Linked DNA regions of Homo sapiens: region 1 is linked to region 2. The links come from fine-mapping of genetic effects on gene expression. Tissue or cell type: whole blood. Region 2 holds a variant in brackets; the other region holds the start of a gene. All regions are shown on one strand. Distances are from middle to middle.

Region 1 (7,103 bases), 25 kb after region 2:
CTATTATAACTAATCAGAAAACTAAAGCTACTCTTTGCCGAAGTGAGCAAACATTGTATACGCTACCACTCACTATATAAAGGAAAAAATTTTCTACCTAAACCCTAACCAATATACCAAATGATACATTCTGTCATTTATTATAGCCAAAATTACAGTGTCACATGTCAAAACAACAAAAACTAAAAAAATTTTAATCACAAAATAAACTAAAATGCATCCTCCTCTCATAATTCTTTTTCCTTGAATTCACAATGTCTAGCTTCTCTTATCCCCAATACTCCCAAATATTCCTTTCTTTTATTGAATAGGTATACCTAATCTTGAGAATAGCTTTAATCTCCATTACTACAAAGTTCAAGTTTCTCTTAACCTCCAAGCATTAAAGATATTTACAATTATTCCCTTTGATCCACCCAACCTACTTTCAGCACTACTCCTTTTATGATCCACAAGCCTGAAATCATAGCCTGGGTAGAAGCATATTTAAAAAAGGAAGCTCTCAAACTAATCATGGCTGATGATTTTCATGTTTTTCTGTTAACCTTCACTGTTGTCACTGCTCAAAACGTAGGTAGTAACAGAACTTAAAGGCCTAAGAAAACCTTGTGAAAATTCATATAATAACTTATTAATTGGCACCTGCCTATATCTTCTCAGTGGCTTCCCACTGACTTATGTATCTTTCCACTACCTACAGAATCCTATATGATCTGGCCATTGCCTATCTCCTTGTGGTACAACTTTCTCCCTAGTTCTCCCCATTTTATAGATTAAAAAACTGAAGCACAGGTTAAGTTACTTGTTCTTTCACATACTGCTAACAGGTGATGAGTCAGGATTTGAATCCATGAAGTCTGGATCCAGAGTCTGTCCTCTTATCAGTAAGACTATATTCTCTCAAAACTATTCATAAATATATTATAATTAGAAACATTTTACTTAAAAAGCAACATTAATATATATTCAGTGCCAGAGTACATAACACCAATAAGTGCAAACTATTAGTACTCATCTGTTTGACAACAAAGAGCAGCATATTAATGACAGTAGCAGAGATGTATTTCTTTGTAGGGAATACAAAATCCCTACAAAATAGGGATTTAGCAAATAAAGAGAAGTAGACATTCAATGGCCTTACCCACCAAGAAACAGCTGACTGTTTGTTTCGTTTTTAAACAGGGCTTTTCGAGGGTGGGGGTGGGGAAACTGTTGTTGAATATGTGTATGTAAAGCTCTCAAATTTGAGAGCTAAAAAGTTTCAAATTGGGCATAAAAATAAACTATGTTACAGAAATGTATGGAACAGTTGCAAGACATTTGACCAGTGAAAACCACATTTACTTACCAAGCTTCTCCAAACAGTAAAGGTGATGCTTTTAGGGGAAGCAAGGCTTAATTTGATGGTTAAAAAACATGGGCAATCATGTAAGAGAATCCTGAAGGGATATGACTATGAATACTATTTCTTCAGGAGGCACAAGTCTCTTTGCAACATAAAGGGTAAGTAAAGGAATACTGTTGATGGTATGTTATTCATAGTAAAGATAGATAGTAGTTAAGTACAAAAAGAATCCATACCACAAAAACCTGCATATTGGTTGACAATTTTTGAACATATTGCCTAATGAAATGCTAATAACTTAAATTTTTTTTTTAACTTAAAAAAATCATTCCGCAATATCGAAGTCACACTAGGTGACTTCACCTCTTTATCTTTTTCACAGCATTCTTATTTTATTTGGTCCTCAAGAAGTGTCAAATCAGGCAATTAACATAGTAAACTCGGGGAACAACTCTAGCCTTGTGTTCCAGTCCTTGCTCTGCTACTTACTAGAAGTGGCTGCTTGGGAAAGATAACATCCTTTGAACTGTAGTTTCTCATCTGTGCCATGTACATCACAGGTTTACTGAGGGTATCACATGTATACGTAAAAACATTTTGAAAACCATTATGTGCTAGTCAAACATAAAATATTGAAAGAAAAAGAAGGTATTTCCATTTTGTAATATAATAATTTGTTAATTTTTTTTTCAGTAGCTACTATGTACTAAGCACTAATGATACAACAAGAAAGACTCTTACCAGGCCAGGCGCAGTGGCTCACACCTGTAATCCCAGCACTTTGGGAGGCCGAGGCGGGTGGATCACTTGAAACCAGGAGTTCGAGGCCAGCCTGGTCAACATGGTGAAACCCCATTTCTACTAAAAATACCAAAATTAGCTGGGTGTGGTGGCAGGCACCTGTAATCCCACTACTATAGTGGCTGAGGCAGGAGAATCCCTTGAACCCAGGGGCAGAGGCTACAGTGAGCTGAGATCGTGCCACTACACTCCAGCCTGGGCAACAGAGACTCTGTCTCAAAAAAAAAAAGAAAAAAGAAAAAAGAAAAAAAAAAAAGACTCTTACCTAAGTAATTAAGTATAGAGTGGGAAACAAACTAGCAAGCAAATAATTACAATACAAAGTACTATGAAAGGGCACAGTGAAGCAATGAACAGGAAAGGTGGAACAGAAATACTAAATTATAATACTTCCTTAAGAACAAATGCTTAATAAGTACTAGCGTAGGAGCTAAACTCAAGTAATCCGACATCAAATCCAGAATGTCTTTAACCCACAGAACCTCAATATCACAACATGCTATAATACTCTTATGTGTTCTGATGTAAAAAGTATCAGCCACCTTTCAAAATATATCAACCAAACTCCAGGCTAATTTCAAATACCCTGCATAGTCAGTTATTTTGCATGACAAATGGTAGGTAGGACTTCTTTCTCAAAACAGTGCATGGTCAAACTGCTATAATGGATATAGAAGTTCACATTCCTTTCCAAAATATATTATGTGATGGGGACAACTCTCGTGATAATTCTAATTTGGATCTAACACGTATTAGGAATGCTCTCTGAATGCTAGTTCTTGGTATAGGAGTGCTACATAAGTAAAGCTTTTATTTCATCATTATAGTTGAAAAAGAAAGTTATCACCGAATCTCTACAAACATTACTGTGCATGAGACAACTACATCTTTTGGCACCAGATGAACTAAGAATAGGTAGCAAAGTTCTGTACAAGTCACCCCCAAACTATTGACAGAGATTGTTCCTTGAATAACAACTCAATTGAGGGGAAATAAAGACTTCTCTGCTATACTTTTTCTCGAAGAAACCATGTTTTTTGCTTAATAAAAATTTAAAAAGCCTAAGTTTTGAGGATAAAGAGACCTCAGCATGACTGTGTATTTAACCCGAAAATATATCCTTATCTTAGGTTTTAGTTATGCTTAACTAACATAGTTAACCTAACATATGCTTAACACAGTTCTATTCTCATTGTCGCCAAAATACGACAAACTGATAGTAACAGTAATAAACTCAAGTCTCATTTAGTTTTGGTTCAAGGGGTGACTCATTCAATTATCAGATGAAAAACTACTCGGACCCCGCTCTTTCCAACACGGTGCCCGTCCCACAGGTTTCTCAGGTAAGAGGCCAGTTTGGTTTCCACTGAGACGCAGGGGAAATTTTTGGTAGAGCTGTTGGGGCGGAAGAAAAGATGGAATTCTCAAGCCTGGAAAAAGCAAAGTGCTCAGCGTCCTGAGCCGGGGTTAAGAGTTACGGTGTCACAGCGTTCTCCTGAGACCGCCCCATCGTCATGGCATTCTCACTTTCGGCATATTGTAGAGGCTGTACAATCCACTCGGCCCACTTTCCTTCACGAGATTCCTCTGCTCGAACAACGATGCCTCTGGAACACAGGATGACCTACACGGAGCCGGCGAGGAGGCCCACGACAGCGCGGGTGGTGGCGGTGCTGTCCAGCCACTTCCCGCGCAGGGACGGGAAAGGGAGGTATTAGCCCGGGGCCTACCCGCTCTCGAACACCCATGTCACTGGACACAAACCAAAGTGAGTTCCTGGAGAAACCGAGCTTGGGATTAGTCACCTGAGGTATGTGTGTGATTCCCGCACTGGAGCCCAGAGCCGACTTCTTCAATCACAGAGACCAGACTTGCTTCCCCCTCACCGGCCGCCGATCCTCCTCAGCGTGCGCTTCGCTCACTCCACCGCGCATGCGGAACCTCCTCGCATGCGCAAGCGCTGAACGAATAGAGGCCCCTCTTCATCATTAACCATAGAGTCTGGGTCCTCCGAGAACAAGGACGAATGTAGATCATGGAAGGACCTGAAAAGTACTGTTTCTCGCTATCTTAGCTTTAGCTAAGTAACCTTCAAGGCGCGAGAAAGACATAGGACTCCGATTCCTTGCCTCTGAAGAATGAATCCTCTTTCAAAGTTTCAGCTAACCATGAGATGGCGCTGTGACCAAAGACGAAAGGTGGAGAAAGACAAGGCGTGCACGCTTCGCTCCTAGTCTTTGGCCTGGCGCGTGCCGCGTATTGCGCAGCCGCAGGGAAGCTGGATGGGGAGGGGTTGGGAGGCGAACCGGAATTGAGGGGTGGTTCCGCGGTGCGCGCGCCTCGACATCCGGGCAACGCCTCTGTTCTGTCCTCCCCCTTCGTCGCCTGTGACAACCGGAAGCGGAAGTGAAAATGGGTGTCCCTGCTGCCTCTTAGCAACAAGAGGGGTCAAGTGACACAACCAGCTGACTCCCGTAGAGGAAGACACTGTGGAGGCCAGTTCTGGAGCTATTGCAGCCTCGGTTGCCCGGCCGGGGACCCGAGCCGAAAAGTTATCGTCAGAATGTCGGGCAAAGACCGAATTGAAATCTTTCCCTCGCGAATGTAAGTAAAGGAATGGGATAAGCCGCTTTCACAGGTTTAGGAACCCGGAGCGCGGTCCCTTCAGACCCTGGGCCACAGTGAGGGTCCTTGTTTCCTGGGAGGATCCTGAGCTTTTCCCAGGTTCTTTTCTTGAGTCTAGGGCGAGGCTTCCTGACGGCCTCTTCGCGCATTCCTCCTGAGTGAATCAGGCTGGACGAAGCGATCCCAGCCGGTAGGAAAAGGCGCCCGGCCGGCGGGCTTTTGTGGAGGTCTGCTGTCTTTATTCATTAATGGATTCATCCATTCCACATACCCTTATTGAGCCGGGCACTGGATTTATATAACTGAACCGTCGCCACCTCTGCCCTACAGAGCTCACAGTTTACGTAGCCAGACATTCGTCTGGAAAGGCCAAGGAGGTTTTAATAAATGCTCTGAGAAGGGAAGTTTACTGAGGATATAGAAGAGGTCCCTAAGCCAAAGTGGGGATGGAATCGAATCGCCCTAGCATAGCCCTCGGATTCGATCTTGGATCCCCTTACTCATTTTCCAAGATCCCGCCAAATGTCACCTGCTGTGAGAGGATATCCCTGTGTTTCTGAGGCACTGCTTTTGCTCTCTCACCGCTGCACCTTGTTCAGACCTGTGTTAATACCGGTCATCACGCTGTAAAGTAGATATTTGTTTATGTGTCTTTCTCTCCCACTAGACTGTGGGCTCTCTCCAGGATGAAAGAGTGTCTTAATCCATAGAAGGTCCACAAAAAAATATTTCTTGAAAGAACTCATGCTTGGGAATACGCTCAGTTGTGGGCTGCCTTTCTTTTGGGGCCTGAATTCTTTGTCAGGAAAATGGCATATCACTGTAGGTGTTTGGCTAGTTTGTAAGGAAAATTTTGACGTTTTCTCAAATGTGCCTAACAACTTGCTCCCTTTCTCCTCCTCATCCTGTTTATTTTTATTTAGTTTGTTGTTTGTTTGTTTTAATAAGAGACAGGGTCTCCCAGGCTGGGGTGCAGTGGTATGATCAGAGCTCACAGCAGCCTCAAACCCCTGGGCTCAAGTGATCCTCCGGCCTCAGCCTCCCTGGCGGCTGAGATTATAGATGGGAGCCACCGCGCCTGGCTTTCCCTTTTTCTTTTCAGTGAGGAAGCAGAAAATCAGTTTTGACCCTGACATTTAGACCCTTTTATTGTGGTCCTATCTCTGTGGGGGTGTTTTGTTGTTTTTCCTCATTCTGTCCTTTGAGAGAATCTGAGGATGCTTAAAATAAAAGTTATATTCAAACCTGAAGCCCAGATTTCTTTCTGCCCGGTGACTAAATAGCTCTTAATGAAATGAAGTTTTTAAATTTTTTACCTTCACCTGTTGACTTTCTAATAGCTGTTTGCACTAAGTAGGCAGCAAGCTAGTTGTGGGGAAATAAAGATGAGGACTATCCCGAGGTAGTGACAACTGCAGAACTCCTAGGACGTGATGACTCAGTCAAAACTTCTGCACTGAAAGACATCGACACTAGTTTATCTTCTAGCAATGTAAGGCCTGCCCCTAGGGTGACCCCAGGCCGCCCCCCGCCGCCCCCGCCATTAAAATGCCTGCCTGAAAAAGCTCAAAGCTAGGGGGAGAATTTACTGTTTGTTCTAGTCAACACCTAATTGATAGACCCCTCTCGTTCCCTTTTTAGAGCATTTACGAAACAGGCTTACAATTGTTAATATGTATCTCTTCCAACTCTGAAGTGTCCCTTCAAGTATCTTTGAGAGCCATTTCTTTGAAACGTAATCATCAGGAGGGATAGGGGCTTTGTCTCCCAGTCTGTGTGAGAGGATAGAATAGTAACTTACTAATTGCCAGGTAGTATGGCGTTTACACTGACCAACACTTTAAGGTTTCTCTTCTCTGACTCTTCTTGCGGCTGGCTCCCTGCCACTCCCTTACTCTCTTTTTTAAAATGGCCAGTCACCTCTGCACAAATGAGAATTGAGCTCAGCCCTTTCCCCTACTATCAGTGGTTTACTGAATAAAATCTGTTTTCACTACTTTAACGAATGTCTGGCTGGGTTTATCTTTGACAGCAGTCAGAATAACTTTTTTGTTTTTACTTTGAAACTTTTACTTTGAGACTAAGAGGCAAAAATAGACATCTTTGGGCTTAGGTAAGAAAATGATAGGCTCATGAAGGTGAAACTACTATTTGAAAGCTCTCAGCTTGCTGATTGAGAGGAAAATCAGGTGCAGGAAATAATCTCTTCTCTAAATATTTTCCCCATGGCTGGCAGCAGGCTTTTTGTCATGTAGTCAGATGTCTTTGATTCAGCTGGAAGAAAAGTCATCATCCTAGCTAAAGGTCAAACTTTTTGAGTAGGACTGAGCAG
Region 2 (7,103 bases):
AAAAAAAAGAAAAAAAACACTTTAGTTTTGTATTTAACTCTCACCATGGTCTAGCCTAACCTACTTTCTTTGTGCCCCTGATGAGTCTGCTGTCTCAGCTTTTAAAATAGGAAACTGAGAAAATATATACACACACATACGTGCCTATACACACCTATCTATAAATACATATACATGTAAATATACATATATACATATATATGTACACATGCACAAATGCTCATATACATACATAGATGGAAACAGTGCAGAAGAGATTACTCAAAGCAAGTGTGCAAAGGAAATAAAAGAATTGCCAAATCTCTGGGCTGCAGGTACAAGATAAGGAACCATCTCAAAAGCATTCTGCAATTAATTTGTTCCGCACTTTACTCCCACTCTTCCTCCTGTTTAGGCTGAATGCCCCTCTCCTGTCCTGGGGACCTACTCTCCTATCCAGGACAGGACTCTCCTGTCCTCCCTGAGACTGCCCTTGAACCCTCCAGGCTGGGGCGGATCCCTTCCTTCTCTGAACTTTCCTCCCGTTGGCATTTAGTAGTACAAATATTTCCAGTATTTTATTTAACCATTTTATTTTTTGCCCTACCTCTTGCTGGGCCCAACATGCAGTATGAAGTTGATTATTGATTAATTGAAGGGCTCCTAGGGCCTGAGGCACGAGGTGTGTAAAGTTGCCCTGAATCGTCCAGGGATACCACCAATCGCAGTTTTGTATCACACGAAGTTTCTTGCTAGGCACATACTAGATTTGTGTAACGATGTCCTATGTGCAGGAATCTATCAACTTTGCAGAAATGATTACTATAGCTGGGTGCAGTGGCTCATGTCTGTAATCCCAGCACTTTGGGAGGCTGAGGAGGGCAGATCACTTGAGGTCAGGAGTTTGAGACCAGCCTGGCCAAGGTGATGAACCCCTGCCTCTACTAAAAATACAAAATTAGCCAGGTGTGGTGGCGTGTGCTTGTAATCCCAGTTCCTCGGGAGACTGAGGCAGGAGAATCGCTTGAACCTGGGAGGCAGAGGTTGCAGTGAGCCGAGATCGTGCCTCTGCACTCCAGCCTGAAAGACAGAGTGAGACTCCGTCTCAAAAAAAAAGAAATGATTACTATAAATATATATTTCTGATTGCTTTGTAAGATGCACACAAGGGTTAAGGAAGCCAGTGAATGTTTTTCCGGGTAGCATATTGGATCAGAGGCTCTGTTTGAGACATCTCCAGGAATGAAAAGCAGATTTGCAAGTCTGTGAGACTTGGTAACTGCAACATTGATGGGCACTACTGCTGCTGGCTGTGAAATGAAGAGGCCCAAGCTTCCTTACTGATGCATGCAGCTTTGGCCATGTGATGTCCAAGTTCAGCTTCATCTTCTATTACAAATGATTTGCACTCACTTCTTTAGCTGGCCTGAGTTGTAAGGGGAGTGCAACTCTTCCCTTTTGTTCATTCACAAATTCCTAATTGGGTCTCCTTTCCTCTACAGGAAGAGAACAGGCCAGTGGGTGGGTTTTCTCTTCGTGGTTCACTCGTGTCTGCTCTGGAAGATAATGGCGTTCCCACTGGTAAGGTACAACTTCAGCCCTGGCCTGAAGATCTCAGGGGCCTCCCTCCTGCACCTCAGTAATGTCCCACTAATGAAATGACAGCTTTGGGAGCCGAGCAGGGCTTTCTCCATGAGACAGAGTGGTGTGAGTTTTGAAGTGAATTTCAGAATTGAACAAAGGGTATGTTCTTGGCGTTTTAAGAATACAACTAAGTAATCCTTATGTTAATAATCTTTCCCCTCAGTTTCTGTGCTGATGGCCCATAAGCTTCCGCCTAAAAATAATAGGTGAGGCTTACACAATGCTTTAGGGTTAACAACATACCTTAATATGTATCATAATACTAATTTCACAATAGCCAGCCATAGTAAGAAGATATTATTCCCATCTTGTGTCTGTGGAAACTGGGGTTCCAATAAGTTAAACAATTTGAGATCAAACTCCAAATTCTATGCTTGCTTTTAACATAAACATACTGGATTCTTTGATGTAAATGAAATGGTAGATCTATGGCATGCTACCATCTTGAGCATAGGGAGCAGGCAAGAGGGCTTCCAGGAATATCCAGACATAACCATTGGAAGGCCTTAGGGCACTGGTGAGGGACAGGGAATGGGAGGAAAAGGGGACCTCATCTGATAGGATTCTCTAACTGTAAACCTTTTATTTAATAAATACATCATTGTATGTTTTTGTCCATGTCTCAGTTGACTTTCTGCTGGTTCAAGATGAAAGCAGACATGGCTATTCAATCACTGATTTTTTTCCCCCTTTTTTCTGCCTAGGGGTTAAAGGGAATGTCCAGGGAAACCTCTTCAAAGTGATTACTAAGGATGACACACACTATTACATTCAGGCCAGCAGCAAGGCTGAGCGAGCCGAGTGGATTGAAGCTATCAAAAAGCTAACATGACAAGGACCTGAGGGAACCAGGATTCCTCCCTCCTACCAGATGACACAGACAAGAGTTCCTGGAGAATGGGAGTGTTAAGACTTTTGACTTCTTTGTAAGTTTTGTACTGCTTTGGAGAGTGAATGCTGCCAAGAGTTCCTCAGATTACAAACAGCAGTGGTGCCATTTCCTTCCCCATCTTCATGTTACAAACCTGGAAAGGCTAGAACAGCCATTAGGCGTCAGCATCTTGACTTTTCCCCAGCATCACAAACAGCCATTTCCTCGGGCACCAAAGTAGGTTCCCTTTGTTGGAACAATTACACTGGCCATGCCATAATGTTGAATAAAACTCTCTTCTTATGAGGTTCTCTCTTAACTTCTTTGGAATTAGTAAAAGCTGACAATTTGTTTCTAGCTATTAGAATCCCATACAAAGTTTATAGTTTTCGAGCAACGTTTCAAGTATCTCTGTCATTAAGACATAGTTCATCTTAAAGTGGGGATGGTGGCCAAACTTTGTACATTGAGAATATTGTTTTGCTTTAGAAAACAAGCCTGCATAAATATTATACATTACAGAAGTCATGGACTCTGTCGGAGAACATAATCACGTATACGAAAAATACATTACATAGCTTTTCTATGAAAAATGGGCATTTAGCAATGCAGAGTAAGAGCGCTCTAAAGGACAGAAAAAGATGTAAATGGGGAAGATTTATATCAAGGCATTAAATTTTGGTTTTAAAATGAATATAAGCTGAGACAAATAGGTACCAAGAAACTTCACCAGTTGGAAGGTTAATCTGTAGTGAAAAGTCTGTATCATACAATACTTTTAAAGAACATTTTTATTACTTTCAAGTTTATACAGTAATCTGGCACAAGCTATTGCCAGCATTCCTGCCAAGTACAAATGCTTGGACCTCCCCTTAATCAACAGATAAAATACATAACTTACATTTAAGGGGAGTGGATACCTCAAAGTGCTTAAGTAAAAATTTGTTCTCTTTAATAGTTTGAACTGTCCCTTGTTAGTCGTGTCTAAAACATTGACCTGAATAATGAGAAATCACAAGCTAATGTTTTACTTATTCCTTATATGGTAAGAGACTACCTTTTAAAGCACCATTTTCCATTTGGCATTTCACCAAGGTCTAATGTCCCTGGAATTAGTTTTTTTGTTTTGCCTTTTGAATATCGATAGGTGTTCATCTGAATTAAACTACGTTTAGTTTGATGGCTTCCTGCCTCCAAATTGGCAACAGTGTACCTCACTTTGTATGGGAGCTATCAGGATCTCCATAGGTTGCAAAGTAGATGACCATTACCTTGGGGTTGGGGCAAATCAGTGAACAAGTCTCGGCAAGGTACTGGCATTTGTATTTTTAAAAAAATCTCTAGCCATTTTGTTCTTGGTGTAAAAGTAGAATGGCTGAAGTAT[G/A]GCAGCTGAGTAATAACTGTTCTTCTTAGCATGATGTAGTGCTTAGCATGTCTCTATGGGTCCAACTTTGAACATTATTAAGAACTGGTTTGTCTTGTTTTGCTATAACTGATATGAAAAATGGTTTGGGTGGGGCATGGTGGCTCACACTCTTACAGAGGCAGAGGCAGGAGGATAGCTTGAGCCCAGGATTTCGAGACCTGCCCAGGCAATATAACACCATTTGCCAAAAAAAAAAAAAAAAAAAGAAAAAAGTGGTTTGAATATTCATATTTCTTCCTGGCCATTACTGATTTTCAATTAATTTATGCATAAATGAGACCCAAACTATCACTAATTTTCAGCTATATGAATTGATAGCCACTTGACATCAGTGAAAGGTACAGTAGGGAGTAGATGAAATTGTATTTTTAATGAAAAGGCTTTGATGGGAGATTCAAGATTTTTGGTTTTTTTTTTTTTTTTTGAGACAGGGTCTTGCCCTGTCACCCAGGCTCGAGTGCACTGGAGTGATCACAGCTCACTGGCCTCAAGTGATCCTCCTGCCTTGGCCCCTTAAGTGCCAGGGTTACAGGCATGAGCTACCATGCCTGGCAGAAATTCAAGATTTGGATAAACTTACTTCTTTGCCAAGCCTGTTCTTCAAGTTATTCAGAACTGGGTGTATACCTTGTCCTCATATGTATCTTGTCCCTGCTGTCTTTTAGGTTAGCAAGGTGTATGAATACTTTTAAGTTTTGTTTGTTCTTTTCCTCGTGGTATCAGTGAAATACTGATCTATTCTCTGGCTAGGGTCAATTTACAAAATTGCCATGGAACTGAGCAAAAGGCCCACGTGGGATAAAAATCACTCACCATCGACGCCACCAGTATTTTTCAAGTTATGGCTTTTGAAGTATAACAAATTTCAGTAAACAAAATCAAAAGAAAAAATTCCTCTGCGTACAACAAAGAAGCACCTGTTATATTTTGAATGCATTCTTCATGTTGCCAGCTTTCTAAACTTGTTTTTTTGATGCCTCAACAGACAGAAGTGAAAATTATATGCCACTCTTAAGTACATCCAGGTTCTCCTCTACATATTCCCAATATGGAATGCTGGCTAGCAATCATGGCACTCTCTCAGAAACCAGCCACTGGAAGTTAAAACTTCTGGATTTCAAAAGCTAGTACAGGCTGCTAAATTTAACAAAGGAACAAACCTTCATAAATGGTACAAACTACCTGCCCAACACACTCTTCTATTTTCCAGACCCTTTAATATTGAGTAGTCTAGTCTTGGATTGACTATGGTGGGTTAGGTCTAATCTAAGTATCTTAATAGCTATCTAGGGATAATGAATAAAATTAAATACAACTGGTACCTCAAGTATCATAAGAGAATAAATTTATGAAGACAAGCAGACCAAAGCAACTCAAGATTTTCTACACCTGACTACTGTAGCTGTAACTTCAAATAATGTGTTACCTATGAAACTTATTATGTACGAATTAGTTCTTAAAGACAGAAATGATGGAAACATGTAAAAAAAAAAAAACAACAGTAAGTGTTCAAACAGATCCCTGTTTTGTTATAAAGAACTGGAGCTCTAGGTGGCATCTAGTGGATATTTTAATAGCAATAAAAATAAAAAATTGGGTGATATTCCAACTAAATAAAAAATGCAGCTGCTTTTTAAAATTTAAAAACATACTTTACCACCCTGAATTATAAACTCAAGGCAAGTAGCTTATTATTCCAATAAGGACGTGGTGTGATAAATTCTCTCACACAGGTTGTCATCAATCTCAAATAGATAAAAGGCACAGAACCGATCTAATTCTTTCAATGCATTTTAAGGCTTTGTCCCGCTAAGGGTCAACTTTCACTGTGGTTAAAGTTAAATTTATTTTCTCTAAAACTCTTCTTTTGAAAGGATCTGTTATAGAGATCCTTTATTCACCTGCTCCTACAGTTCCACATCAAGACTAAAATAAAGATAAAAGAATTAGGGTCTTAGTATTAAAATGCTTTTAACTGGTGACAAGAAGGAAGAAGCCTATAGTTAAATATCCCAGAAATTTATTTGATGTTTGCTTGAATACATTTTATATAGAAAGATTGGGATTGTTTGCCTTGGATGCCCCTGGCAAATCTCGTGAGGCATTGAACTAGAAAGGGGTGCCAATCTGGAGACATCAGAAATGGAAATCACAAGCCCAATTTTAGAACTATTCTTAAAGATTTGTCTCTAGTGAAATGAGGCCACTCCCTTAAAAATGCTCAAAGTGTTGGAGCTACTGTGTGACAACAGCTGACATTTAGGAGGGCATTTCATGTTCTGATCTGTTAGAACATTTAAATACTTAGAAATAAAAAATATTCAGCTTTGAAGTTTTCAATACTGGAAAACTTTCAAGTCTAGGATTTACAGCCAGGAAGCGCTGCTCTGTGTTCCTTAAATTGGACTCTGTTTCCCACAAAGTTAATCTTCAGCTTTGGCTTCCATTTCTTCTGCATCATCATCTCCATCCACTTCGGCATTTTCTCTTTCAAGCCTCTCCATCTGCCTCGCAAGTTCAGTCTCATCTGTATCTGTGACCACTTTGGGCTGTGGAAGCAGAGGTATAATTTCAAACTGAAGTAGTAAATACTATACAAATTTAATTTCAATACTATTACTGCCTAATGTTTTCTCTCTTTAACACTTTTCTAACAACTCTGTCATATCTGTTCACTTTTGAGTGACTTATCAGCAATAAATTCCATTACATAAATAAGAGGTGAAACTTATGAGAATAGTATAGAAAAAGGATGTATGTATTAAAATGGAAAATTATTTTCTGTCATTTTTATAAGCTAAAACTGAAAACATGAAATAACCCCAATGGCTGTATCTTTCAAGACCACAAATAGATATCCTGTTAAAAAAACCTGTCTTCCAGGCTCAAACTACTACTTACTAGCTTACTAGTCCTTTCCATAGAAGGAACCATAACACACACACACACACACACGCACGCACGCACGTACACACACTTCTTTCTTGTTGGACAAGGAAAAGACAGGAGACAACTTTTTTTTTCTCCAATTCTGAGATCAAATTTTAGACATGCCACATGCAAATTCAAACCATAAAAAAACTTCTCATTTATATTGTTTATTCCCTTCCCCCTGGCTGGGGACGGGGGGTGACCCTAACACCATTAGTGATCAAAGGCCTGAATGACCATCCTACAATATGA

What was found. PIP is the estimated chance that this variant, and not a neighbour inherited with it, causes the effect.
Region 1: EIF2S1 starts here. The variant in region 2 is fine-mapped to the expression of EIF2S1 in whole blood (TOPMed, PIP above 0.99). The same link has a PIP of 0.9 or more in blood mononuclear cells.

The regions. Positions count from the first base shown.
Region 1 is chr14:67,357,305-67,364,407 of GRCh38, reverse strand. EIF2S1 (eukaryotic translation initiation factor 2 subunit alpha) reads right to left here and starts at 4,080. Exons shown (of 8, transcript NM_004094.5): 1 at 3,952-4,080. ATP6V1D (ATPase H+ transporting V1 subunit D) reads left to right here and starts at 4,604. Exons shown (of 9, transcript NM_015994.4): 1 at 4,604-4,750. The coding sequence starts at 4,710. It also overlaps a transcript of GPHN not described here. RefSeq lists enhancers at 3,825-4,624, 4,645-4,864, 4,707-5,493.
Region 2 is chr14:67,382,681-67,389,783 of GRCh38, reverse strand. EIF2S1 (eukaryotic translation initiation factor 2 subunit alpha) reads right to left here. Exons shown (of 8, transcript NM_004094.5): 8 at 3,268-6,469. The coding sequence ends at 6,344. It overlaps PLEK2 (pleckstrin 2), which reads left to right. Exons shown (of 9, transcript NM_016445.3): 8 at 1,482-1,560; 9 at 2,328-2,800. The coding sequence ends at 2,455. It also overlaps a transcript of GPHN not described here. Among named protein-coding and RNA genes, the nearest start is that of EIF2S1, 26 kb to the right of the region's middle. RefSeq lists a silencer at 198-492. The variant G/A (reference allele first, on the strand shown) is at 3,879.